7 linked regions of the Homo sapiens genome follow. The protein of the gene in region 5 interacts with the protein of the main gene of each other region in a pairwise test. Each region holds a gene or a part of one and is shown on either strand. Other genes may lie near its edges.

Evidence for each region.
Region 1: the proteins of MRM1 (region 5) and LPAR3 interact in binary tests that used the Homo sapiens proteins (3 or more experiments, as listed by UniProt).
Region 2: the proteins of MRM1 (region 5) and RNASE10 interact in binary tests that used the Homo sapiens proteins (3 or more experiments, as listed by UniProt).
Region 3: the proteins of MRM1 (region 5) and STATH interact in binary tests that used the Homo sapiens proteins (3 or more experiments, as listed by UniProt).
Region 4: the proteins of MRM1 (region 5) and SPX interact in binary tests that used the Homo sapiens proteins (3 or more experiments, as listed by UniProt).
Region 6: the proteins of MRM1 (region 5) and CMTM3 interact in binary tests that used the Homo sapiens proteins (3 or more experiments, as listed by UniProt).
Region 7: the proteins of MRM1 (region 5) and VSTM1 interact in binary tests that used the Homo sapiens proteins (3 or more experiments, as listed by UniProt).

The regions. Positions count from the first base shown.
Region 1 is NC_000001.11:84,813,207-84,816,706, reverse strand, and holds part of LPAR3 (lysophosphatidic acid receptor 3), read left to right. Parts: intron 1-2,535; coding exon 2,536-2,861; 3' UTR 2,862-3,500. UniProt on the Homo sapiens protein: Receptor for lysophosphatidic acid (LPA), a mediator of diverse cellular activities. May play a role in the development of ovarian cancer. Seems to be coupled to the G(i)/G(o) and G(q) families of heteromeric G proteins.
Region 2 is NC_000014.9:20,511,461-20,514,384, reverse strand, and holds the end of RNASE10 (inactive ribonuclease-like protein 10 precursor), read right to left. Parts: 3' UTR 501-2,924; downstream 1-500. UniProt on the Homo sapiens protein: Secreted proximal epididymal protein required for post-testicular sperm maturation and male fertility. May be involved in sperm adhesion to the egg zona pellucida. Does not have ribonuclease activity.
Region 3 is NC_000004.12:69,998,966-70,003,070, forward strand, and holds the end of STATH (statherin isoform a precursor), read left to right. Parts: intron 1-701; coding exon 702-722; intron 723-814; coding exon 815-844; intron 845-1,897; coding exon 1,898-1,984; 3' UTR 1,985-2,017; intron 2,018-3,223; 3' UTR 3,224-3,605; downstream 3,606-4,105. UniProt on the Homo sapiens protein: Salivary protein that stabilizes saliva supersaturated with calcium salts by inhibiting the precipitation of calcium phosphate salts. It also modulates hydroxyapatite crystal formation on the tooth surface.
Region 4 is NC_000012.12:21,529,296-21,533,447, forward strand, and holds the end of SPX (spexin precursor), read left to right. Parts: intron 1-1,841; coding exon 1,842-1,900; 3' UTR 1,901-3,652; downstream 3,653-4,152. UniProt on the Homo sapiens protein: Plays a role as a central modulator of cardiovascular and renal function and nociception. Also plays a role in energy metabolism and storage. Inhibits adrenocortical cell proliferation with minor stimulation on corticosteroid release.
Region 5 is NC_000017.11:36,604,583-36,607,023, reverse strand, and holds part of MRM1 (rRNA methyltransferase 1, mitochondrial precursor), read right to left. Parts: intron 1-2,441. UniProt on the Homo sapiens protein: S-adenosyl-L-methionine-dependent 2'-O-ribose methyltransferase that catalyzes the formation of 2'-O-methylguanosine at position 1145 (Gm1145) in the 16S mitochondrial large subunit ribosomal RNA (mtLSU rRNA), a universally conserved modification in the peptidyl transferase domain of the mtLSU rRNA.
Region 6 is NC_000016.10:66,611,046-66,614,387, reverse strand, and holds the end of CMTM3 (CKLF-like MARVEL transmembrane domain-containing protein 3), read right to left. Parts: intron 1,780-3,342; coding exon 1,751-1,779; 3' UTR 501-1,750; downstream 1-500.
Region 7 is NC_000019.10:54,050,398-54,053,897, reverse strand, and holds part of VSTM1 (V-set and transmembrane domain-containing protein 1 isoform 1 precursor), read left to right. Parts: intron 1-923; coding exon of another isoform or gene 924-999; intron 1,000-2,449; coding exon 2,450-2,488; intron 2,489-3,500.

The sequences.
Region 1 (3,500 bases), on a different chromosome or scaffold from region 5:
CCTGCCTCAGTCTTCCAAGCAGCTGGGACTACAGGTGCCTGCCACCATGCCCAGCTAATTTTTTGCATTTTAGTAGAGACAGGGTTTCACCATGTTGGCCAGGCTGGTCTCGAACTCCTGACCTGGGTGATCCACCCACCTCAGCCTCCCAAAGTGCTGGAATTATAGATGTGAGCCACCACGCCCAGCCTAAATGAAGTTATTTAAGAGAAGAAACCATTGTTCAGCAGTTGAAGAGCCTCCCTTGACCAGGGCATTTCCTTTGCCTGGATTGTTCTGAGATGTACAAAGGGAAGGCCTTTTTCCTATGAATGAAAGATCAGGCTAAGCGGCTTCTGAACTCTTTTCCAAGTAGGAAACTGCCGAATTCTGTGAAACTGTGGCTTTTAACTCTCCATAAAACTCAAACAAATTTGACTTGTTTGTTTCTCAGACACAATTATCGGGTGGTATGGCTAAAAACTTACTAATATGAATTCTCAAGTTGGTAGTTGCAAACTTGGCTGCCCATCCAGTTCCTTCACTTGTTTCAAACCAGTCTGAATAAAACAAAAAACCAGTCTGAATCTGTCACATTGATTGCACACCCACTAACAAGTTCTGACCCACCACTAGAAAAACTCAGACCTAGCCTAAAGTCAGTCCTCAGTTTACAGCTGAGGAAGCTGAGCCCAGCGCAATGACATGGGTCTCCCAGAGTTGTACAGTAAGTGAAGAATTAGAACCCAAATCTCTGATCTCTTATCTCCAAGTCCAGTTCTTTATTCACATATATCAGCCAGACCGAAAATAATAATACAAGGTGGAGAAAAAAGGGAACCACTGCTGAACCGTAATTATGAAATAAGGAATTCAACCCCCCTGCTAGCTACTAAACATATAGATATTTTTTGTGGAAACAGAGCACCTCATGATAACTGCTGCTCAGTGAACCCACCACAGTGTTGGGTACCACTTTCCATGACCTCTGATCCTCACAACTACCACCTCACATAGTTGGGTTTATTAACTTTATTGTATAAAGGAGGGAATGGAGGCTGAGAAAAGTGAAGTAATTCCCATAATTCGGGTCACTCATAGGTTGAGCTGTGCATACATGTCTGACCCCAAAGTTCGTGGCTCTTCCCTGCCTTACACTGCCTCTTTATAATCCTTGTCTTTCCCTGCTTGGTATTATATCTCTTAGAAGTAAGATAAAGCAACAAGAGAAATACTATGCAGAACTAATTCTAACAAGTAGAGTAGTTGGTGATATCATCTATAGACTTGCTTGTTTGTCGTCTTCTCTGTTAGTATTTTAGCTCCCTGAGTGCGTGGCCTTCACCTCACTCACTGTCTAGTACAGCTCCTGGCACATTGTTAGCTTCAGATGAATATTTATGAGTGGACAAGCAAGTGCATTTAGAAATGACAAGGACATTCGCCGAAAGCAACCACATCATACTACAGAGGCGGGTCATATAGTGGCCCAGGGCACAGCCTGTGGAGAAAGACGGCCTCTGTTCAAAATCGTGTCTCTTAAGAGTTATTTGATCATAGGCAAGTTACTTAACTTCTCTTGTGCCTCGGTTTCCTGGGGATAATAATAATGCCAATGTCATAGTGTGGTCCTGTGAGTTAATCAAGGAAAGCGTTTGCACCAGTGCCTCGCTTATAGTAAGTGCTGTATAAAGATGAGTCGTTATTGCTATCTGAGGTTATGATAATAGTAGGGAAATAGTGGACCCATGTCTTAATGGGAGAAAAATATCATGAAATTTAGAGATAAGGTAAGTATGATGCTGTGGCTAGAGACTCAGAAGAGACTACGGTTCATATTCAATTGCAGAGTCTGAAAAGTAGATTTTTAACTATCTCATCATGAAAGATTTATTTCTGACCAAAAAATCTAAATGTAGAGCAGATGATTATGCAGATGGCCCGTGAATATGTCAAAAAGAATATAGTGCTTACTAAGCATCCACATGAATTTATGAAGAATGAAATTTATGAGCAGGTGATTTGGTTAAACTACTAGAAGAATGCCGTAGACTCATTGTGTCTTATTTTCAAGAGCACATTTAGAAAATCTGATTTCTGTAACAGCAGAATGTAGGGTGAAGTATGGGAGCCCTGGAGTCAGAGAGTTCTCCTCTCATCTCCCCCTAGAATTGGGCCTTGGTTTTCTTATCTGTCCAATGTGGATAATGAGTGCAACAAAGCCTCCCAGTGTGGTTCAGAGAACTAACGGAGATCATGCATGTGCACTGCCTCCTAAGCAGAATGTAAATGTGAGTCTCTCATAATCACAAGACCTGGGTAAGCAGAAAAGAAAGTGAAATGAAATGTGATTGATAGTCAAGGAGGTTCCCACCTATTTGCCTGTACCAAGCGTAGGTCTCAAATGCTCAGATGGTAGGTGGAAGTTTGCCTTGCAGTTGTCAAAACAAATCATGAGGGCCCCTTGATGCCACTGGCTAAAGGCTGGGAGAGAAGAAAACCTGAATAAGTCCCCTAAGGTCTGAGCATCTGTTGCCTCCTCTTCTCTCCTTGCAGGGGCGTTTGTGGTATGCTGGACCCCGGGCCTGGTGGTTCTGCTCCTCGACGGCCTGAACTGCAGGCAGTGTGGCGTGCAGCATGTGAAAAGGTGGTTCCTGCTGCTGGCGCTGCTCAACTCCGTCGTGAACCCCATCATCTACTCCTACAAGGACGAGGACATGTATGGCACCATGAAGAAGATGATCTGCTGCTTCTCTCAGGAGAACCCAGAGAGGCGTCCCTCTCGCATCCCCTCCACAGTCCTCAGCAGGAGTGACACAGGCAGCCAGTACATAGAGGATAGTATTAGCCAAGGTGCAGTCTGCAATAAAAGCACTTCCTAAACTCTGGATGCCTCTCGGCCCACCCAGGCCTCCTCTGGGAAAAGAGCTGTTAAGAATGATTACCTGTCTCTAACAAAGCCCATGTACAGTGTTATTTGAGGTCTCCATTAATCACTGCTAGATTTCTTTAAAAAATTTTTTTTCATAGTTTAAAAGCATGGGCAGTAAAGAGAGGACCTGCTGCATTTAGAGAAAGCACAGAAACGGGAGAGGTTCGGCGGGTCCCTGCTTGTCCTATGAACTGCTCAGAGCTCCTGTCAGTCCAGCTGGGCCTTCTGGGTTCTGGCACCATTTCGTAGCCATTCTCTTTGTATTTTAAAAGGACGTTATGAAAGGGCTTAGACCAAAATAAATCATAATGTTACTTGAGCCACCTTATATAGCTGCTTGGAGAGTCTATGTAGTTCTTTCTGCATGCATTAAAAATGTTTAGAAATGCTTCAGCAATGGTGTTTTTTTCCTCAAAGAAACCATGGCCAGTAGCTAGGTGTTCAGTAGGAATCAAAGAAAAATCAGTAAGAGCTCCAGATTAAACCTGATTTTTAACTGAAGGAACATTCTGAGGAAAAATACTTAAAAGTAAAAAAGGTCAATGTGAAAACCCTTTTTGACCTGAAAAAGGCCTTAGTATGGTCCTCC
Region 2 (2,924 bases), on a different chromosome or scaffold from region 5:
TAATAAGCAGCAAAGCTCAGAACAACTTAAAAAAAATTTTTTTTTGAGACAGGGTCTCACTCTGTCACCTAGGCTGGAGTGCAGTGGTGCAATCATAGCTCACTACATCCTTAATCTCTGGGGCTCATGCAATCCTCACACCTTAGCCTAACCCAAATAGCTAGGATTACAGGCATGTGCCACCACGCCTGGCTAATTTTTCTATTTTTTGTAGAGATGAGGTCTCCCTACGTTGCCCAGGCTGGTCTTGAACTCCTGGGCTCTAGTGTTCTTCCCACCTCAGCCTCCCAAAGTGTTAGGATTACAGGCATAAGCCACCACACCTGGCCAAAAACTTGTACAGAGTGTTTTGAAGACAATATTTGAGTGTCTTCCAAACAGTAGAGGAGACATCCCTTGGCCCATAGGTAGATAGTCATTGATTAATAAATGTGTCAATGAAGAATATAGAAGAAACTTATAATACAGATCCTTCCACAAAGGTGCTAGTGGCCTAACTAGGATCATATCCAGTATACTCAAATTAATTAAGGCTAATTAAATAGTATATATAGATCCCACAATTTCTTACTTGAAACTTTTGGGGCCAATGCATTTTGGCCAACATTTTCAGATTTTAAAAAGCACTATTGTATGTTAATGTGTGTATGTTTATATCATATATGACTAACACACTCTTAGAAGGACCTACTCATAACAAAACACAGTGATATTTCCACAGTGAAATATGTAATGGTCACATAGCATAAATAAACAAGATAAATAGCCTCACATTGTCAATCTAGTCAGGTGTCATATCTAAATGAGTTTTGGGGCCACTTTGAAAAAAACTTTCCATTTTCAGAGCTTCAGAGATTTGGGTACTGTAGATAAGGGACTGGGATCTGTCATATGGGCTCAACACAGATCCTGGAAGTGTAGAGAGGAAGCTACATTGGAATTAGAAGACTCGGTGAAAGTCTTGTGAATGAGGCAGAATTTGAGCTACAGTGAGTTAATTTTCTGCCCCTGGGAGGTGAGGTCCCCACAATGCCTTGTCACCCTGTTATCAGCCATGGAAGCTATATTTTCCTGCTTGAGCCACTAGGCGCCTGTGGAGTATTTTGTAAATTGCTTTCCTGCGATAGTCTACGTGGTCAGATTAAACAAAAAAAACAAAAACAAAACAAAACAAAACAAAAGAAAAACATGACCCACTGAGATTTGCCCAAAGTGAAGACCCGGAGGAGATGAGTATGCCCATCAAACAGTGCCGGAACGCTTAGGGAGAGAAGCTGGACGGAAGCTGAAGAGGATGGAGCCACATCTGAATACTAGAGAATATAGGCTTTAATCCCTGGCTAATTCCATTCTCTTAATAATTCACTCCATACAATGGAGATCTTTCACATTTCATTCCTAAATCCTTGGTTTACCTACCAGACAGATTGCTAACGTGGCCGATTTTCTCTGACACCTATTCTTCTTTCCCCTCTTCCCATCCTATTTCTCATTTTTTCCCCCTTACCTTAGATAATCTTTTGTCTCTTTCCCCGGAGAGGGATTCGCCCTCAGGAAGCATAGGAATCTGCCTTGGCTGGGTCATCACCTTTCACCACTTCATTACCACCTCTAAAACATCAGGCCAGCCCACAGATGGAGACATACCTCCTGTCCACTATTATTAGAATTCCCTGGGAGACAACACTGTTCCTAAGAGGTTATTGCTGGAAGTGAGTCAGAGGTATAAGGGATATATTGAATCAGGGACGTCTAGGAGGATACTAAAGTGGTTGCCTGTCTGTGAAAACAGGAAGGATAAAGAGAATAAAGACAGAAAGAACAGGAAAATGCAAGCCAGGTCAGAGTAAAGCAAACCGTTCTTCCCTTCAGTCTCCCATTTATGTATGTCCCTGACTTGGGTCTATAATAGTCTAGGAATGTGAAGCAGAGAAAAACTCTAGGGGAAGGAAATCTCAAAATTCAGTCACACGGTGAATCCTTACAGCTATGTTCTCAGATTCCTCTTCTCCCTATGCATGACTAACTACACTATTTCTCATTTGAATTTAGAGGAAATAGGCTGAGGGCAGCCACTTGCATCTTCTGTGTATCCAGCCACACAGCTTCTCTTCTCCTTGATTAAGTTTGATACCTTCTCTGCTGAAATTATTCTTTCACTAACTTTCTTGTTCTTTAGAGCAATAAAGCGGAAACGATGCTAAATGAGAAAAAGACTGTCTCCCATCCCATTCATCCCACATCTACTGGGCACCTCATATGAGCACTATTCTGCTTCTGGACATAATTCAAAAAAGATTTCTCACTCTCTCTTTCTCTTTCTCTCTTTTCCTCTCTCTTTTTCTCATTCTCTTGACCCACCCCCCTCTAACTCCCTGTGCCAGACTCTGACTATAGGACGAACATCTGCTTGCATGACTGACTATAGGACCAACATAGCATAAGTGATCAGTATCGGCTGACTGAATCTCTAAAAGGATCCAGATAAAGAGAAGAGCGGGCCCAAAAAGAAAAAGAAGAGGAAAAGGAGAACAGAGAAAGTAAGGAGAAAAAGAAGCAAAGGACAAAAGCAAAGGTAAGAGATGAAAACAAGAAGCCAAGCAAGGAGGCTGCTAGTAAAAGGTGGGAAGAAAGAGAAAAGGGCAGTGAAGGGTCAAGAAAAAAGAGTTCTATTCTTGCTCCAGCCCATCTTCTATCTTGCTCTACAGCACCACACCACCTCCCCAGCAGACCCCCATACCTAGGCCCTAAATTTTTCCAAGCTCGGAAAAGGAAGCCTGTTCCACATGGTCCTCCAGAAGCCATTACAGATAGAATCACTTTAACTTCATCCGCAATAGAGAAGTGCAGTTGTGCAAAACCCAAGAGTCTTATGTGATTGTTGTAGAGGCTCAGGGTGGGCAGCAGGGAAGAACATGGGTAAA
Region 3 (4,105 bases), on a different chromosome or scaffold from region 5:
AACTATAAAACAAAACTTCAGATCTATGACATGTTATGAGTTCCCAGCTTTTATTGTCATTTACTACTATGTATCACTAGGTAAAGCACTTGACTTCTCTGGAGCTCTTTCTTCTACTCTACTTCCTTCTATTTCTCCTGTCCCTTTTCTATGACATTAGTAGGAAACTGGCCATGAAAGAATAAAAATAGTTCAACTTACCTGGTAAATTCTAACAGATATTTCAAAAACTAATTTGATTATAAAATCACAGTATACCACATTATTTGTTATAAAAGGATAGGTGTCTAAAAAATAAAAAATAAAAATGTAAGGAAAACAGAGAAAAACATAATGCTTGTCTCTGTCAGTAAATAAAAGTTATGTGTAAGTAGCCTTTGAGCTGCTGAAAACATATTCTTATGAAAAAATACAAAGTTTCACTTTTCATTCACCAATGATAACCATTTACTCCCTTTTACACACAAAACAAGTATAAATCCAAATAAATTTATATTTGAATATAGCACACTAATTACAGAAAAGCATACTCTTAACTCATTTTAAAGATGTCATGAAGCAAAAATAACTAATTTAGTGTCTATCGATGATTTGCCTACATCCTGTTTACTCACAACTGTAGCTGCTGAGTTCATTTTTGTACTCAATCTGGAATTATAACATTAAGATACTAACTATTGTCTAATTTTCTGTTTTCTAAGGGAGCTGATTCATCTGAAGAGGTGAGTCATTTTCATTCACTGGAAAACTTGTTTTCAGTTTTGTCCTCCCTACATTTGTATTGAATTATTAAACTTTTCTTCATTTTTCACAGAAATTTTTGCGTAGAATTGGAAGATTCGGTGTAAGTGTTCTCTGATAATGCTGTGTAGTCCAAATAAATTGTGTTCTCTGATTACTTATTCTTCTAGAAGAACCAATACTTATTTCTCAAATATGTGTAGTAGTTGCAAAAGTGTGCTTTGTTTTCCTCTATTTATGATACACAGGTAACAGTCACAAATGTATTGTGTCCTAACAACATTTAAGTTGAAACTCATAGTGCCAACCTGAAGAAACCAGTTACTCCCTGAGCCCTCAAGTATCATCTCCTAAGTAATCACTTTGACCTAAAAAATAGTTGAAATTCTAATTCTGTTAATTATAATATATGCCTCATGGAGCATAAAGGCTGATAATTACACATAAAATATGGTAAGTTTGCACCTTCTGATTTTTTTTGACGGTGATAAACTCATTAAATTAAACAGGTCATGATAAATGAGATAGCAAATTTCATTTATTTAACATTTTTCTTAATGTATGTATCTTGATGTCCCAGTATGTTGACATATAATGTCAATGTGATAGGGTTGCAAAAGATCCCCTAACTAATATAGTGAATACATGGATTAAAATAACACCAAATAAAAAGATACTCTAAAAGGGATGATGGTTATTTGTGTTAACAGAAGGAAGAAGTATTAAGGAATGTAGGAATCGTAAGAGACAGTAAGCTCATTAAAAGAGTGACTTGAAGAAACACCACATAAGCTGAATTTAGTAAATGTCTCCTTCCCATAATACTCAAAGGTGGGCAAAATGGTTGCTGGGAGGTAGTATTTTGAAGAAAATTTAAAACCTCTTTGGAGTGATAGCCTATAATCGGTGTTCCTGCATGTGAAATAAAACCACAAAACTGTGAACATGCAGTACAAAGGTAAACACTCAATCATTTTTACCTGCTTTTAAAATGTGTTTATAACCAAAAAGAAAAATCTAATTGAAAGTTTGGAAAAAAATCTTATAAGTAATATGTAAGTTCCTAAAACTTTAACAATCTAAGCTTCTAATAAAAACGCTTGCACTGTCATTATCTCAATTTTCTGCAATTTTCTTTCTCCTTGTGTGTATACAGTATGGGTATGGCCCTTATCAGCCAGTTCCAGAACAACCACTATACCCACAACCATACCAACCACAATACCAACAATATACCTTTTAATATCATCAGTAACTGCAGGACATGATTATTGAGGTAAGATGGGTTTAGTGACATTTTTTTTACTTTCTGTATCAGTGCTGACAGTTAAAAGAAGAAAAACAAAAACAAGACATTAAACCAACAGCAGTTCCAGTATAAGAAAGCAGCCAGCTGTATAGCTCCTTGAAATGTATTAATTTATATAAATGCTTCTGAGATAGTCTCTGTCCTGCTATGGTTAGAAGGCAGTGTTATAGAGTGGGGGACACCAGGGTTTGTATGCTGGCCCTGACAACTACTAGTTTCATGACTTTGAACTACTCCTAATGCTCCTGAACCTCAGTTTTCTCGTCAAAAAATTGTGTATTATGATAACACTTAAATGTGCTTTTTAGAATTGGTGACACTTTTGAAAGACATATCACATAAAATCTCTTGATCAGAAAGGTTTGTAGTTATAACTGCAGGGCTTCCCTGCCACTAAATCTGTACCTAGGTGTTGCTTAAAGTTTTCACTCCCAAAATGCAATCTTTGGAGAAGCTTCCATCTGGGAACCATCTGGGAACTTGTGAGAAATTTGCATTTTGTACCCTAAGTAACTCTACTGAGCAATTACTATAGAAATTATTAACATAATGCTAACAAGAAAATATGGAAATGTTATCAATTTCTTTTTAGAAAGTCAGTTTTACCTATCTCTACACAACATTAAATGTTCTAAATTCTATGAAAAAATAATATTTCAAAACAAAATAGAGCAAACTCTTGGAGATAAGGGAGGATTGTTCTACAAAGTTAAAATAGTCCAAAGGATTTCAATTATTTTTCAGTGCATTTGGGAGATTATATTCCAATTCAATTCTCTATTGCCATTAGTGATACAGGGAAGAGCCTGAACTTGATCCCCTAGGTTTTAGGTAATAGCTGATGACATTTAATCAAGAAAAGATGTATTGAAATATTATTTAGAGGAAATGCATATAAATGAAATGTGTAGGCTATATTTAAGTAGAAGAATAAAATAGTATGATGATTGAAAAATAATTTAAATTGTAGATGCTGAATGATAATTTTTATTTATTCAGGAACCAATTTAATAATTGTTTAATTGTCTACTCTGTGTCAAATATTATTTTGGGCCCTGCATTTTATAAACTATAATTGTATATAATATCTACTCTGTACCAGGCCAGAATATAAATGTGTTTACAGGGGTAAAAATTTTACAGATAATCTGTTATTTTTTTTTTTCTGTGCAGGCTTGATTGGCAAATACGACTTCTACATCCATATTCTCATCTTTCATACCATATCACACTACTACCACTTTTTGAAGAATCATCAAAGAGCAATGCAAATGAAAAACACTATAATTTACTGTATACTCTTTGTTTCAGGATACTTGCCTTTTCAATTGTCACTTGATGATATAATTGCAATTTAAACTGTTAAGCTGTGTTCAGTACTGTTTCTGAATAATAGAAATCACTTCTCTAAAAGCAATAAATTTCAAGCACATTTTTACATGTATGCTCCTTATTTTTCTCTTTTCTATTTATAGGAATAATGATTTCTTTCATCATCTTCTTTCCCAGTTTGACTAGCACAGATTGAAGCCCATAATGTCAGAGGTCCTTATTTATAATTTAGTCTGTCATATTTTATATGTTACAAACATGGTACTCAAACTCACTTATTATTAGAGCTATTTATGCCAAGATTTGATTTGCCCATGGTTTCCTTTGCCACACCACAGTTGCTAAGCCTCCAAAGCACTCACATTTTTTATCTCAGTCCCTGTAGGTCAGAAGATAACCACCATGTCACTCTACAGCAGTATGTAGGCACTCTGCATGTAAACCATCTAATGCCCTCCATTAGTTTTTCAGCAATGACTTTTATTCAAGAAATATTTATTGAATGACCCCAGCTGTCAGGTCCTCTTCTAGATGCTGCAGACAAAGAGAGACAAAAGTCCTGTCTTTGGAGAGTTTACATTGTAGTTGGGAGATGCAGATACAAAGTAAATAAATAGTACATATCTTAGGCAATGATAAGTGTGCTAAAGAAGTATAAGCATGTCTAGGGCACAGAAACAAATTTAAACAGGATAGTCAACAAGAGACTCTCTGACATAGTGA
Region 4 (4,152 bases), on a different chromosome or scaffold from region 5:
ACTTCAGAGCCCGTTAATAAAGGTTGAAATCATGAGAATGGAGATACCTTCTAGGGCTTAGATATAGTGGGAAAAGGGAAGACAATAAAACACCCAAAAATCAAGGGAAATGGGGGGAAATAGTACCAGTGAAGGGACATTAAAAGGAGCAAGCAGAAAGGTAAGAGGAAAATCAGAATAAGAGAGTATCCCAGAATTCATTCAGTAGCTGATGCTACTGATCCCGCTCCTCTTGAAACTTTCCAGGGATGGAAACTATCAGAATGGTTACTATAGCAGAATGGTTAGTAAGAATACAGAACTCAGGGGACATTAAACAGTGTGTCACAGGACTTCCCCCCACCTCCTGCCCAGTGACACAGCTTGCTGCTGCTATTCCATATCTGAAACTTTGTTTACAGAATGTGATACAAGAAAGTAAACTGCAAAGTTAAGAGAAAGCAGGTCTCAGGCTCTGGAGAGCTGGCATGACTCTCAGAACTCTTGCAGTGAAAAGGTGTGAAATAGTTGAATAACGGGTAGAGGATGCTGTATCCAAGGTGTTCTTTTTAAAACCCAAGACATGGAACCCAGCGATTTTTGGAGTCAGTACGAAAAGAGCTCTGATGGAGATTGGTTGATAGTGACGTTTTAGATTTGATTGTTGGGAAAATGTGCAGAGCCAGAAAGGAAAGTGACTTATAATGGACAAGAGAGAGCTAATTTTAAAGAGGAGAGGTATCTTCATTAGCAATTTGAGGAAAGGATGTGATTATAGGTCCCCATCTCAAGTCTTTTTTGGAAAATAAATATGTATTTTTTTAATTATTGAAGTTTTCTAAGTGGATTGTCTCTGAAGATGAAATGACTAATTTTATTAGTCTAAATTGATAGAAAAGTTTTTGATTCCCATATGATAAATTAATCACTAGTCTTCTTTAGTATTTTTATTCTATACTACCTCATTATTATTTAGAAGGCTCTTATTTAGTGAATTATGGTTTCAGTGGAATTTATACAGGGACGCCGTTCTGGTTTTGTTTTGTTTTGTTTTGTTTTCTTCCTTCCCTTTAAAGAGAAGCCCATTTTCTGCAATGGTTTAAAGTGTGCTAGAAATTCAGGTTAAGATGTAACCCAAACATTCAAATTATATTGCAACTAACTGAAAGAATGTGCTTTTATCTAGAGGTGATCTTAGAAGAAATTAGTAGATGCACTTTGCCCCTGGCCACTGCTTCTCCCTACCGTATTGTAACTTTTAGTCATTCTATCCTATTTTTAGAGTCCCAGGAACCTGCTATTGTCTAACTCTTTAAGTATCCCCACCTCAGAAGTGATACCTCATGCTCTAAAGTTTCGCGATCCCAGCCAGCAAACGAGTGCCTCTTCTTTTTGTCTCATTTCCTCCCCAGAACTCTAGCTCCCCTAATAAAAGAACATTTGCAAATGTGTTCCCATGTCATCTTTCCCGAGCAAGATCCATTTTAACAGGAAATATAAAGAGACAGTCCTTTGATGCAAGTGAATTATTTTAATGGTGGGTATTTTAGATATAAGTCAATCTGTGAGAGCAAGACACATGACTTTTGAGATTTTTACCAGACATACCATACTGTAGTTTCAGTCATTATAGAGGTTCAGATGTAAAATATGAATTCCCCAATGTGTCCCAAGCTGAGAAAAAAAGATTTTAAACTGAGCAAATCAAAGCCCATATTGTTTAAATTTTCAGTAGCAGAGTCCATAAGTTAACATAGCTTAGAAGGCTAAATGTTTATTTCCTGAGATTCTCTTTGTCTTACCTTTTCCTCTATTAAAACGCAGAGTGTATATTTATTTTAAAGAATTTTTTTTTCTTACAGATGAAGAAAAAAACTTTGATCAAACCAGATTCCTGGAAGACAGTCTGCTTAACTGGTGAAAATATACTGGATTATGTTTAATTATGGTTCTATTCTCTTTGAAAACATGAACCATGTGAATAAAACCTTTGGACCCTTTTATTCCATTTGTAATCTTAAGAACACACACAGATAGTTTTATTCTTTCAGAAACAAAATATATATAGGATGCTTAGCTGAGAACATCATCTTCTTTCATTGCTTCAGGTCCTGTTTAGATGACCAAAAATGTTTTCAGATCACCTTGTGTCTTACTCTTGAGTTTCTTAGAATATTTATAATTATAAGGCTGAAGACTAAAGTGTTCTTTCCTTTTAACTATAGCCAGTACCTGTCTTGATCTTAGTTGTGTTTTTTTTTCATTTTGTTACCCACTTGCATTTTGTTTTCACTCAGCAGAAATTCTCCTTCTCTGTTTTCCTTTTATCCCATCCCCAAGAATGTGGAAGGAAGGTGAGAAACATGGCAGGATGGGAAATAGGAGAGTATGACTCTCTATAGCTCATCCAGGAGTAATCAATTAAGAAGATAAATTGGATGACTGTGGAGAAGCTCTGTGATAGGAACACTTCAGTGTGGTTGCTGAGAGGAGACAGTCATTGAGGTAGAAGGTTTGCCAAAGATCCAGAGCTCAGAGCTCCCTTTGTGCTCTTTGGGAATTACCTTGCATTCAGTTTAGAAACATGGATCTAAAAGTTACTGGGAAATAAGCAGATGGAGACACACTCTGTTGTTTACGTATTGGAAGAAGGGAACAAGCCAGTTTTGTTAGAGGTAACTCATTTTCCATGACCAAACAGACTCAACAGATTCAAGTACTCTGCTTACTCTAATTGACTAGACTCTAGGTTTTATTTGACATCATAGCATTACATAAATCACTCTGATAACATAAGTGCACAGTAATATGCCTGATCTCTTCCTTTTTAAAAGCCAACTTGAGTTCAGTACCATCTGAATACACACACATGCACATATACCCACACACGCATACACACATACTCCTGTGGCAAACATAATAATGTATTTATTTAGAATTATAATATGACCATCATGTTAATTATTTTTTACCTAATCAGAGTTGTTATTGACAAATGTCATAAGTGGAAAGTATTAATTCTTATTGTCATCAGTATTTAGCCATTATTTAGTAGCTCAAGAATATCTTTATGTGAATGTCTCTGTAACTTGGAATTGCAATTTCACTGTGTTAAGTAATCAGAACTCTGCTTATAAGATTTATCTGTATCTTGTTTCATAATTTAATAATGAAACTAAATTCAAGTTAATGTAATGTTGATCTCCGTCGAAAAATAACTTGTGAGCATTAAAATATCTGTATGGCATTATAATAGGCACCTGTCATTAATTATGATTTGATTTGAAAGTAGACTTACTAGGTAGTGCTTACATCTGATTTATTGAAAATTTTTTCCAAAAGCATTGTCTTTTATTTATACAGTCCTAACCACTTCACCATTAGGAGGGGTGGGACATTAAAAATTATTTACCCATCAGACATAAAATTGTACAAATTGACTATTCAAAATAGTATGTGTATTCAAAGAACACTTTTAACATCTATCTTATGAAATAATTCTTCCTACAACTAACCAGAACAATCTCAAAAATGTCATACTAACCATTGTTTTAAAAGCTGTCTCAATGATCAATAGCTGTTAAAATATAGCTCCAAGTATTCTAAGTACTCAAATTCCTTGAATGTTCTTATGTACAAATATGCTGATTAATTAAAAGGTCCCTCTTCCCAATTTTCTATAACTTTCCAACTCTCTTATGGTGTCTATATTCTGTTTATTTCTAGATTTTTAAAAAACCAAAATGAACAAGTGATCATAGATCAGAAAACCTTCACATTATATGGCTTGTGTTTTAAAATTGGGAATTTTCTGGCTTCAACACACAGATACATGCACTAGAATACCTTGATCTGCAGGGAGCGCTTTCAGCCACTTTCTGCACAGTTCTCATTGCCCTTCTCTTTTTTGCCTCTATAGCCTACCTCGGCTATCTGGCCTCCATCCTGGGCTCTTAATTATTCTTTGTTTTCCAGTAGTTGCCTTCGCTCCCTCAATACCATCATTGTGTTCCTAAGAGAGGAGAGAAGAAGGCGAAGTGACCCTGGCTTGTTCAGATTAGCCTCCAGCTTGCATTTCTTCTTTACCTGGTTATGATAAATGAAAATGTGTATCTTACAATCTTGAATTACATTATTTTATCTTGACCACAAAGAAAGGGAAGTTGGGAATGT
Region 5 (2,441 bases):
AGAATCGCTTGAACTCGGGAGGCAGAGGCTGCAGTCAACCGAGATTGCGCCATTGTACTCCAGCCTGGGCAGCAAGAGTGAAACTCCATCTCAAATTAAAAAAAAAAACAAAAAACCAGGCGCAGTAGCTCACGCCTGTAATCCCAGCACTTTGGGAGGCCGAGGCGGGCGGATCACCTGAGGTCAGGAGTTTGAGACCACCCTGGCTAACATGGTGAAACTCCGTCTCTACTAAAAACACACAAAAAATTAGCTGGGTGTGGTGGCACATGCCTGTAGTCCCAGCTATTTGGGAGTCTGAGGGAGGAGAATCGCTTGAACCCGGGAGGCGGAGGTTGCAGTGAGCTGAGAGCACACCACTGCCTCCAGCCTGGGCAACAAAGCGAGACTCCACTCTGTCTCAAAAAAAAAAAAAAGACTAGCCTGAGCATCATGGTGAAACTCTGTCTCTACTAAAAATACAAAAATCAGCCTGTAATCCCAGCTACTCAGGAGACACGAGGATCTCTTGAGACCAGGAGGCAGACATTGCAGCGAGCTAAGATTGCGCCACTGCACTCCTGCTTGGGTGACAGAGTGAGACCCCCATCTCAAAAAAAAAAAAAAAAATTATCCATCAGAGCCCTGGCCAAGGAAGAGCCCAGCCTTGCCCATACATTCATTTATCTGCTGATCCAGTCAATTAGTCAATAGTTATTAAGCACCTAGCATGGGCTCTGTTCTAGGCACTGAGGACAGGGCACTGAACAAAACAAAACAGACCAAAATCCCAGCCTTGTGGAAGGGCAGGTGGGGATGGACTCACTGAGGTGACATTTGAGTGCAGACCTGAAGGAGAAGGAGGAGCACCGTGCAGACATCTGGGGCAAGAACATTCTAGGCAGAGAGATCAGCAAGCACAGAGGCAGGTGCCTCCCTGGCATGTTTGAGAACAGTAAGGTGGCCAGTGGGAAGAGAGGCGTCAAGACAGAAGAAGGAACAAGAGCCACATGAGGTATGGTCTCCAGGGCTACTGGAAGGACTCTGCCTTTGAATCTGAGCGGTACAGAGGCTTTGAAAGGTTTTGAGCAGAGAAGTAACATGGTATGACTTCAACAGAATCACTCTGCCTGCTGTGCTGAGAGCCAAGAGCAGAAGAAAGGAGGCCAGGTGGGAAGTTTCTGCAATAACGGTCAACAGATGATGGTGACTTGCTTGGGCCAGAGTGGTAGCAGTGGAAACAGGCAGAAATGGTGATAATACGGAAATAACTTTAGTTAAGGATGATGCCAAGGTTTTTGACCTAAACAACCAAAGGGATGGAGTTGCTCCAGAAGGAACAAGCGCTCAGTTTTAGAAATGTTAGGTTTGAAATGCCCGCCTGACAGCAAAACAACAACAACAATAACAACAACTGTGCAGTAGGCAACTAGATGAGTGAATCTGGAATTCAGAACCAAGGTCCAGGCTGGAGTATACACTTGGGCGGGAATTTGAATTCAGATAGTATTTAAAGCCATGAGACTAGATGAGACCAACAAGAAATGAACATATACAGAAAAGAGATCCAGGACCAGGTGAGGTGGCTCACGCCTGTAATCCCAGCATTTTGGGAGGCTAAGGCAGGAGGACTTCTTGAAGCCAGGAGTTTGAGACCAGCCTGGGCAACAAAGTGAGACCTCATCTCTACAAAAAAAAAAAGAAAAAGAAAAAAGAAAGAAAAAAATTAGGTGAGATGGTGTGCACCTGTATCTCCAACTACTCAGGAGGCTGAGGTGGGAGGATGGCTTGAGCCCAGGAATTCGGAGGCTATACTGAGCTGTGATTGTGCCACTGGACTCCAGGCTGGGCAACACAGCAAGACCCCATCTCTCTCTCTCTCTCTCTCTCTTTTTTTTTTTTTTGAGATAGAGTTTCACTCTTATTGCCCAGGCTGGAGTGCAACGCTGTGATCTCGGCTCACTGCAACCTCCGCCTCCTGGATTCAAGCAACTCTTCTGCCTCAGCCTCCCGAGCAGCTGGGATTACAAGTGCCCGCCACCATGCCCAGGTAATTTTTGTATTTTTAGTAGAGACAGGGTTTCACCATTTTGGCCAGGTTGGTCTCGAACTCCTGACCTCAGGTGATCCACCTGCCTCAGCCTCCCAAAGTTCTAGGATTATAGGCGTGAGCCACCGTGCCTGGCCAAGACCCCATCTCTTAACAACCGCTCCCGGCCAAGACCTCATCTCTTTTTTTTTTTTGACACGTCACTCTGTCACTCAGGCTGGAGTGCAGTGGCACAATCTCGGCTCACTACCACCTCCACCTCCCGGGTTCAAGCGATTCTCCTACCTCCGCCTCCCGAGTAGCTGGGACTACAGGCACGAACCACCACACCCAGCTAATTTTTTGTATTTTTAGTAGAGATGGTGTTTCACCGTGTTAGCCAGGATGGTCTTGATCTCCTGACCTCATGATC
Region 6 (3,342 bases), on a different chromosome or scaffold from region 5:
GCCCCAGGGTTCCGGCTGCCTGAGGCTGCCGTGAGACACTATCCTGATGTGTAAGTGAGAGGGCCCTGGGCCAGTTACCCGACCTCTGTCTCAGTTTCTTTGTTTATAAAACAGGGTAGTGTGAGAACTAGAGCAGGGGTCCCCAACCCCTGGGCAGTGGACTGGTACCATGGGACCTGTTAGGAGCCAGGCTGCACAGCAGGAGGTGGGTGGCAAGCAACGGCATTACCGCCTGAGCTCTGCCTCCTGTCAGATTGGCAGTGGGATTAGGTTCTCATAGGAATGCGAATCCTATTGTAAACTGTGCATGCTACGGATCTAGGTTGTGTGCTCCTTATGAGAATCTAATGCCTGATGATCTGAGATAGAACAGTCTCATCCTGAAACCATCCCCTCCCACCCTCACCCCAACCCACCCGCCAACCCCCAGTCCATGGAAAAACTGTCTTCCACGAAACTGGTCCCTGGTGCCAAAAAGGTTAGGGAAATAAAGGATTAAATGGTAGTCAGATTTCACGTGTATTTTTGCTAAAACTGAAAGCTGTCAGGATCCACATTGGTGTTACCAGTTTGTACTGAAGCCTGATACAATACCCAACAGTATTGCTCTGGTTTTTTCAAGCACACACTCCAAGCAAGTGGTCAGTCTGGCTTAATTCATTATGGCTTTTTTTCAGGGTAAGAGATTCACACGCAAGAGAATAAGGCTACAAATGCTCCAAACATGGGTCCAGAACTCTGGCTCTTTTGTGAGGCCTAGAGTCACAGAAAATGCCATCTGTTAAGAAGCTGCTTTTGCATAAAAAAATATAAAAAGTTACAAAATTCCATCAAAGACAGATACACAGTATAAATCGTTAGGTGAACACAGAAGGCTGGTCTCATCTCCTGCAGTGGCCCATAGACCTGCCCTGAGGTCTGGAAGTTCACTGTCCTGAGGGTCCAGGAACTCCTGCCTGCTGGCTGGGCTCTAGGAAGAAGGAGGGTTTGGCTGGGCCCGCCCAGCTCCCCATGACACTGTCACTGTGATGCCACTGTTGTACCCTCTGTCTTCTGGACCAGTCAGTCTATGAGCTCTTCTTTGAAACAGTCTTAGACCCAGAATGGTCATCTCACCCCCAGAAGACATGGTTTCCAAGGGTGGGAGGTGTTAGTTATGGGTGCCGAGCCCCACTTCCTGGGCGACAAGGCAAAGGTCAATTTCTCCCTGCTTCAAGAATGAAGAGGGAACTGGTGCTCCTTGAACCAAAGATTCTTGGAAGGGTCATTGTCACCAAAGTGGCTGGTGTGGGCAGGAGCACCAAGTGCAGACAAACCCACCGGGGCCTGGCGGGGCAGCCCTGTCATGGTTTCTGTCTTTGTTCCTGTTAGTGAAACAGAAGACCCCCGACCCCCGCCACCTAGCAGCATGGAACACCTGCTGCCCAGATACAGACAAGGCTCTGCTTTGTCTCCTTGTGCTGGTTTTTGGCAGAGACGTTAAAGGGCTGAAGGCCTGTGGGACAGAAATGGGGAGAAGGAGTGGGATACCCAAGATGCCCTCATACGCAGCGTGGTCAACAGTGCTGAGCTGAGGGGCAAGCCTGGTAGGCTGGGCTCAGGCAGAACCTGAGGCTGTAGGGGGCCTGCTGTGTCCGCAGCCCCCTCTGCAACTCAGAAGTCCAGGCCTCCGCTCCAACGCCAGCGACCCCTGTGAGGCGCAGGGGTGGAGGCCTGTGTGGCTCAGGTTGCCAAGGCACCCGCCAGGCCTTCAGTCAGAGTCCGAGTCGGAATTCTCTTCTGAAAGGAAAGCAGAGAGGATGCTTGGCAGGAGGCTCAGGGCAGCGGTGCCTGGGAACGGTCTCTGGGGAAGCACAGCTGGGTTGCTGGCAGGAGCCTGGGTGCAGGCCTCCTGCAGCTGACTCTACCGTTCCCAGTGATCGCTGGCATCAGGGCAGGCCGCGGGCCTGAGGCCCTCCACAGGCAGCAGCCACTTTCTCTCTCTCTTTTTTTTTTGTTGTTGTTTTTTGTCTTTGAGACAGAGTCTTGCTCATCACCCAGGCTGGAGTGCAATGGCGGGATCTCGACTCACTGCAACTTCCTCCCTCCCGAGTAGCTGGGATTATAAGCGTGTGCCACCACACCTGGCTAATTTTTGTACTTTTAGTAGAGATGGGCTTTCACCAGGCTGGTCTTGAACTCCTGACCTCAGGTGATCTACCCACCTCAGCCTCCCAAAGTGCTGGGGTAACAGGCGTGAGCCACCGTGCCCGGCCGCAGAAGCCACTTGCACCTCCAGGGTGTGGGTGCGGGTGCAGGTGGGGGTGTTTCCACCCCAAGACTGAAGCCCAGGTGCCCCTTCCTCAGGCCCAGCCCCTCCGGAGTCTCCCTGGGCTTTTCTCAGCTGGGTGGGTCAGGGCTGTACCTCTGCATTCCAGCTCTACCCCCACCCCCAGGTTCAGCAGGACAAGGTGAGGACAGCTATTTTCTTGTCCCCCAAACTAAAATATACTGGAAAATCAGCAAGCCTCTTTTTAGCCATTTTATATCTTCAATCCCCCTCCCCCAATCCTTGTTTAATATTGTAATCAGAAACAATTTTATAATGGTAAGGGCCTGCCTATGAGGTGTACCTCGAGGGTTCCTGAAATCCCAGTTCTGTCTCGGAGCTCTGTAGAGCCTTCTGGAACCTCCACCCCAGAAGGAAAAGCACCAGAGTCACTAACCCCCAACCCCACCCCAGTGCTGGTTGCTACTTCCTGATGCTCATCCCCTCCCTGGCCAGCCTCTGTCTCTCAGAACCCCAGTCAGTCCCCATGAGCTGTCGCTGGCTCATGGCTGGGCTCAGGGCTGGGGTGTGGGCAGCCTAGTCCCTAAACCCCAGCTCTGTCCCTCACTCCGGTTCCTGGGCTGCACTCGTCAGATTTTGTGGGTTTTGCTATATTCAATTTTTTCCCCCCGAGATGGAGTCTCACTCTGTCGCCCAGGCTGGAGTGCGATGTCTTGATCTCAGGTCACTGCAACCTCTGCCTCCCATAGGTGATTCTCCTGCCTCAGCCTCCCAAGTAGCTGGGATTACAGGCGGGCACCACCATGCCTGGCTGATTTTTGTATTTTTAGTAGAGATGGGGTTTCACCGTGTTGGCCAGGCTGGTCTCAAACTCCTGACCTCAAGTGATCCACCCGTCTCGGCCTCCCAAAGTGTTGAGATTACAGGCGTGAGCCACTGTGCCTGGCTGCTATATTCAATTCTAACATATAAGTCAAGAATAATTTTACAGCAAAATAATTGTTACATATGTGAAACTCTCCAAATAGTAAAACAAAAAAAACAAAATAAAACCACCCAAGTTTCCACTGACG
Region 7 (3,500 bases), on a different chromosome or scaffold from region 5:
CACATTCTTCTTTGGAAGAAAGAAAGAAATAAGAGCAAGCTATCAGAGTAATTAAAAAACACATTATAGATGGAGAATAACTGTGAGAGGCATTGTATTAGTGATCTACAGCTGCATAACAAATTACCACTAATTTAGCAGCCTGAAACACCTATTTATTATCTCACAGTTGATGTGGGTCAGGAGTCCAGGCACAGCTTAGCTGAGTCCTCTGCTTTGGGTCTCATAAGGATGCAATCAAGGTGTCAACAAGGGCTGTGTTCTCATCTGGCTCATCTGGAGGCTTGACTGGGGAAGGGTCCATTTCTCCACTCCTGTGGTTGATAGCAATATCTGGTTCTTTATAGCTGTAGGATTCATGCTAGAATGATTCTGCAGCACTTGCAAGAAGAGAGATTGAGAGAGAGAGAAGAAAGAGAGAGCAAATGCCCTAGCAAACAGAGTTTTATGTAATGTAACATAATCAAGAGCATAACATCCCATCACCTTTGCCATAGCTATTGGTGAGAAGAAAGTCACAGATCTCCACACTCAAGGTGAGGGGATTAGACAAAGGCATGAACACCAGGAAGCAGGGCTCCTGAGTCTCCTGAGTGCCCCCTTAGGGTCTATCTGCCACAAGCATGAAGGATGAGAATGACCCAACCACACCGATATCTGGAGAACAGCCCTCCAGGGAGAGAGAGCAGCAAAAGCAAAGTCTCAGAAGTGTGAGTGTTCCTGGAATGATTGAGACACAGAAAGGAGGACATAAGGCAGGGCCTAGAGCATCTAGGATCTTGTGGGTGTTTGAACTGGTCCTAGAGTCTGCTTTGAAAGAACAGGAACCCACTGATGAAGTTGAGCTGGAGGATGGCATGATTTTATTTATATGCTGGAAGGGTCACTGGCTGCTTTTTTTTTTTTTTTTTTTTTTGAGACAGGGTCCCACTCGGTTGCCCAGGCTGGAGTGCAGTGGTGCAATCACAGCTCACTGCAGCCTTGACCTCCCAGGCCCAGGTAATCCTCCCACCTCAGCCTCCCAAGCATCTGAGATTACAGGCACAGGCCATCATGCCCGGCCTCTGGCTGCTTTTGGAAAATAAGGGACTAGATGTAGTAAGAGTTGGTGCGTTTCAGGCAATACGACTTTTTAAATTTAAAAATATCAAATTGACAAATGAAGATTGTATATATTCAAGGTATACAATCTGATGATTTGATCCACCTGTACATTGTGTAATGATTATCACAGTCAAATTAATTAGCACATCCATTGCCACCATGCTGAGCACCTGAACTTCTTCATCTTAGAACTGGAAACTTATACCCTTTCATCAACATCTCCGCATATATCATGCTAAACAAAATAAGCCAGACTCAGAAAGACAAATTCTGCAGGATCTCACTCATATGTGTAGTCTAAAAAAGCCAAACTCACAGAAGCAACTGGTGGTTGCCAGGGACTGGTGAGTAGGTGATATTTCATTTCATTTTTATTTTTATTTTTATTTTTTTTTTGAGACGGAGTCTGGCTCTGTCCCTCAGGCTGGAGTGCAGTGGCGCGATCTCGGCTCACTGCAAGCTCCGCCTCCCGGGTTCACGCCATTCTCCTGCCTCAGCCTCCCGAGTAGCTGGGACTACAGGGGCCCGCCACCACGCTCGGCTAACTTTTTGTATTTTTAGTAGAGACGGGGTTTCACCATGTTAGCCAGGATGGTCTCGATCTCCTGACCTTGTGATCTGCCCGCCTCGGCCTCCCAAAGTGCTGGGATTACAGGCGTGAGCCACTGCGCCCGGCCAAGTAGGTGATATTTTAACTTAGACTAAATGGTGCCACTGTGGAGATAGAAATATAGGCCAGGTGCAGTGGCTCATGCCTGGAATCCCAGTATTCTGAGTGGCCAAGGCAGGTTGATCACTTGAGGCCAGGAGTTTGAGACCAGCCTGGCCAACATGGTGAAACCCTGTCTCTACTAAAAATACAAAAATTAGCAGGGTGTGGTGGCGGGCGCCTGTAGTCCCAGCTACTTGGAAGGCTGAGGCAGGAGAATCTCTTGAACCCGGGAGGCGGAGGTTGCAGTGAGCTGAGATCATGCCACTGCACTCCAGCTTGGGTAACAGTGCAAGACTCAAAAAAAATAAAAGAAAGAAAGAATTTGGGTGAATGGTGTTCTTTGTCAAGATAGAGAAGACTGGCAAGGAATCAAACTGGAGGGGGCGTTAGCAGGGTCATTCATAAATATTTTTGTTATTAAAAATACTATCAAACTCCAGGACTATTAAGAAGAGTAATCTGAGGCTCTGTCCATGCTCTGAGGACCCAGGGAGCATCTAGGGAATGGAGAAGCCATTCTCTTTTCTGCTTCCCAAAGAAGAACAGGATGTCTATAAGTAGGACGTGAGGACTCCTGTCCCCAAGGTTCCTGTATGATTAGTGTAATTCCTTTTCTTCCCTCCTATTTTCTAGATAAACACGATGAACTTGAAGCTCCCTCAATGAAAACAGGTAAGATAATTAGAAAGGAGATGTTTTTCCCAATGAGATCTGCTTCATGATCACCTTTGCTTAAAGTGCACAAGGAGAACTTTATTTATTTGTTTGTTTGTTTGTTTGTTTGTTTTTTGAGATAGAGTCTCGCTTTGTCACCAAGGCTGGAGTACAGTGGCGCAATCTCAGCTCACTGCAACCTTCGCCTCCCGGATTCAAGCAATTTTCCTGCCTCAGCCTCCCGAATAGCTGGGACTACAGGCACGCACCACCACACCCAGCTAATTTTTGTATTTTTAGTAGAGACGGGGTTTCACCATGTTGGCCAGGCTGGTCTCGAACTCCTGACCTTGTGATCTGCCCGCCTCAGCCTCCCAAAGTGCTGGGATTACAGGCGTGAGCCACCGCACACGGCCTATTTATTTTTTTGAGAAAGAGTCTTGTTCTGTCCCCCAGGGTGGCGTGAAGTGGCACAATCTCAGCTCACTGCAACCTCCACTTCCTGGGTTCTGGGTTCAAGCAATTCTCCTGCCTCGGCCTCCCGAATAGCTGGGATTACAGGCACCCACCACCATATCCAGCTCAGTTTTGTTTTTTGTTTTTTGTTTTTAGTAGAGATGGGGTTTCACCATGTTGGCCAGGCTGGTATCAAACTCCTGACCTCAAGCAATTCCCCCGCCTCGGCCTCTCAAAGTGTTGGGATTACAGGCATGAGCCACCGCACCCGGCCTAGAAGAACTTTAAAGCCCATTTTCTCAATGTTATTGGGGAAACTGCTGTGTTTTGGGGGGTGGAGGATGAGGGGAGATAACCTCTAAAGTGCTTCCGGGTTCTGAAGAAGCTGGTGTGTAAAACAGCACAGAGTGCGTTGTTTGCCATATGACATGATGAAAAACTAGGGTGGGATTTGGGGAATAATGGGGGTGAATTTTTCAGTGACCCATTTGGGGAGTAGGACCAGGACCTACGCAGAGTAGGTACTTCAGGAATATATATAATCAAGAGTTTGTTATAACTCTAAAATTCTCAA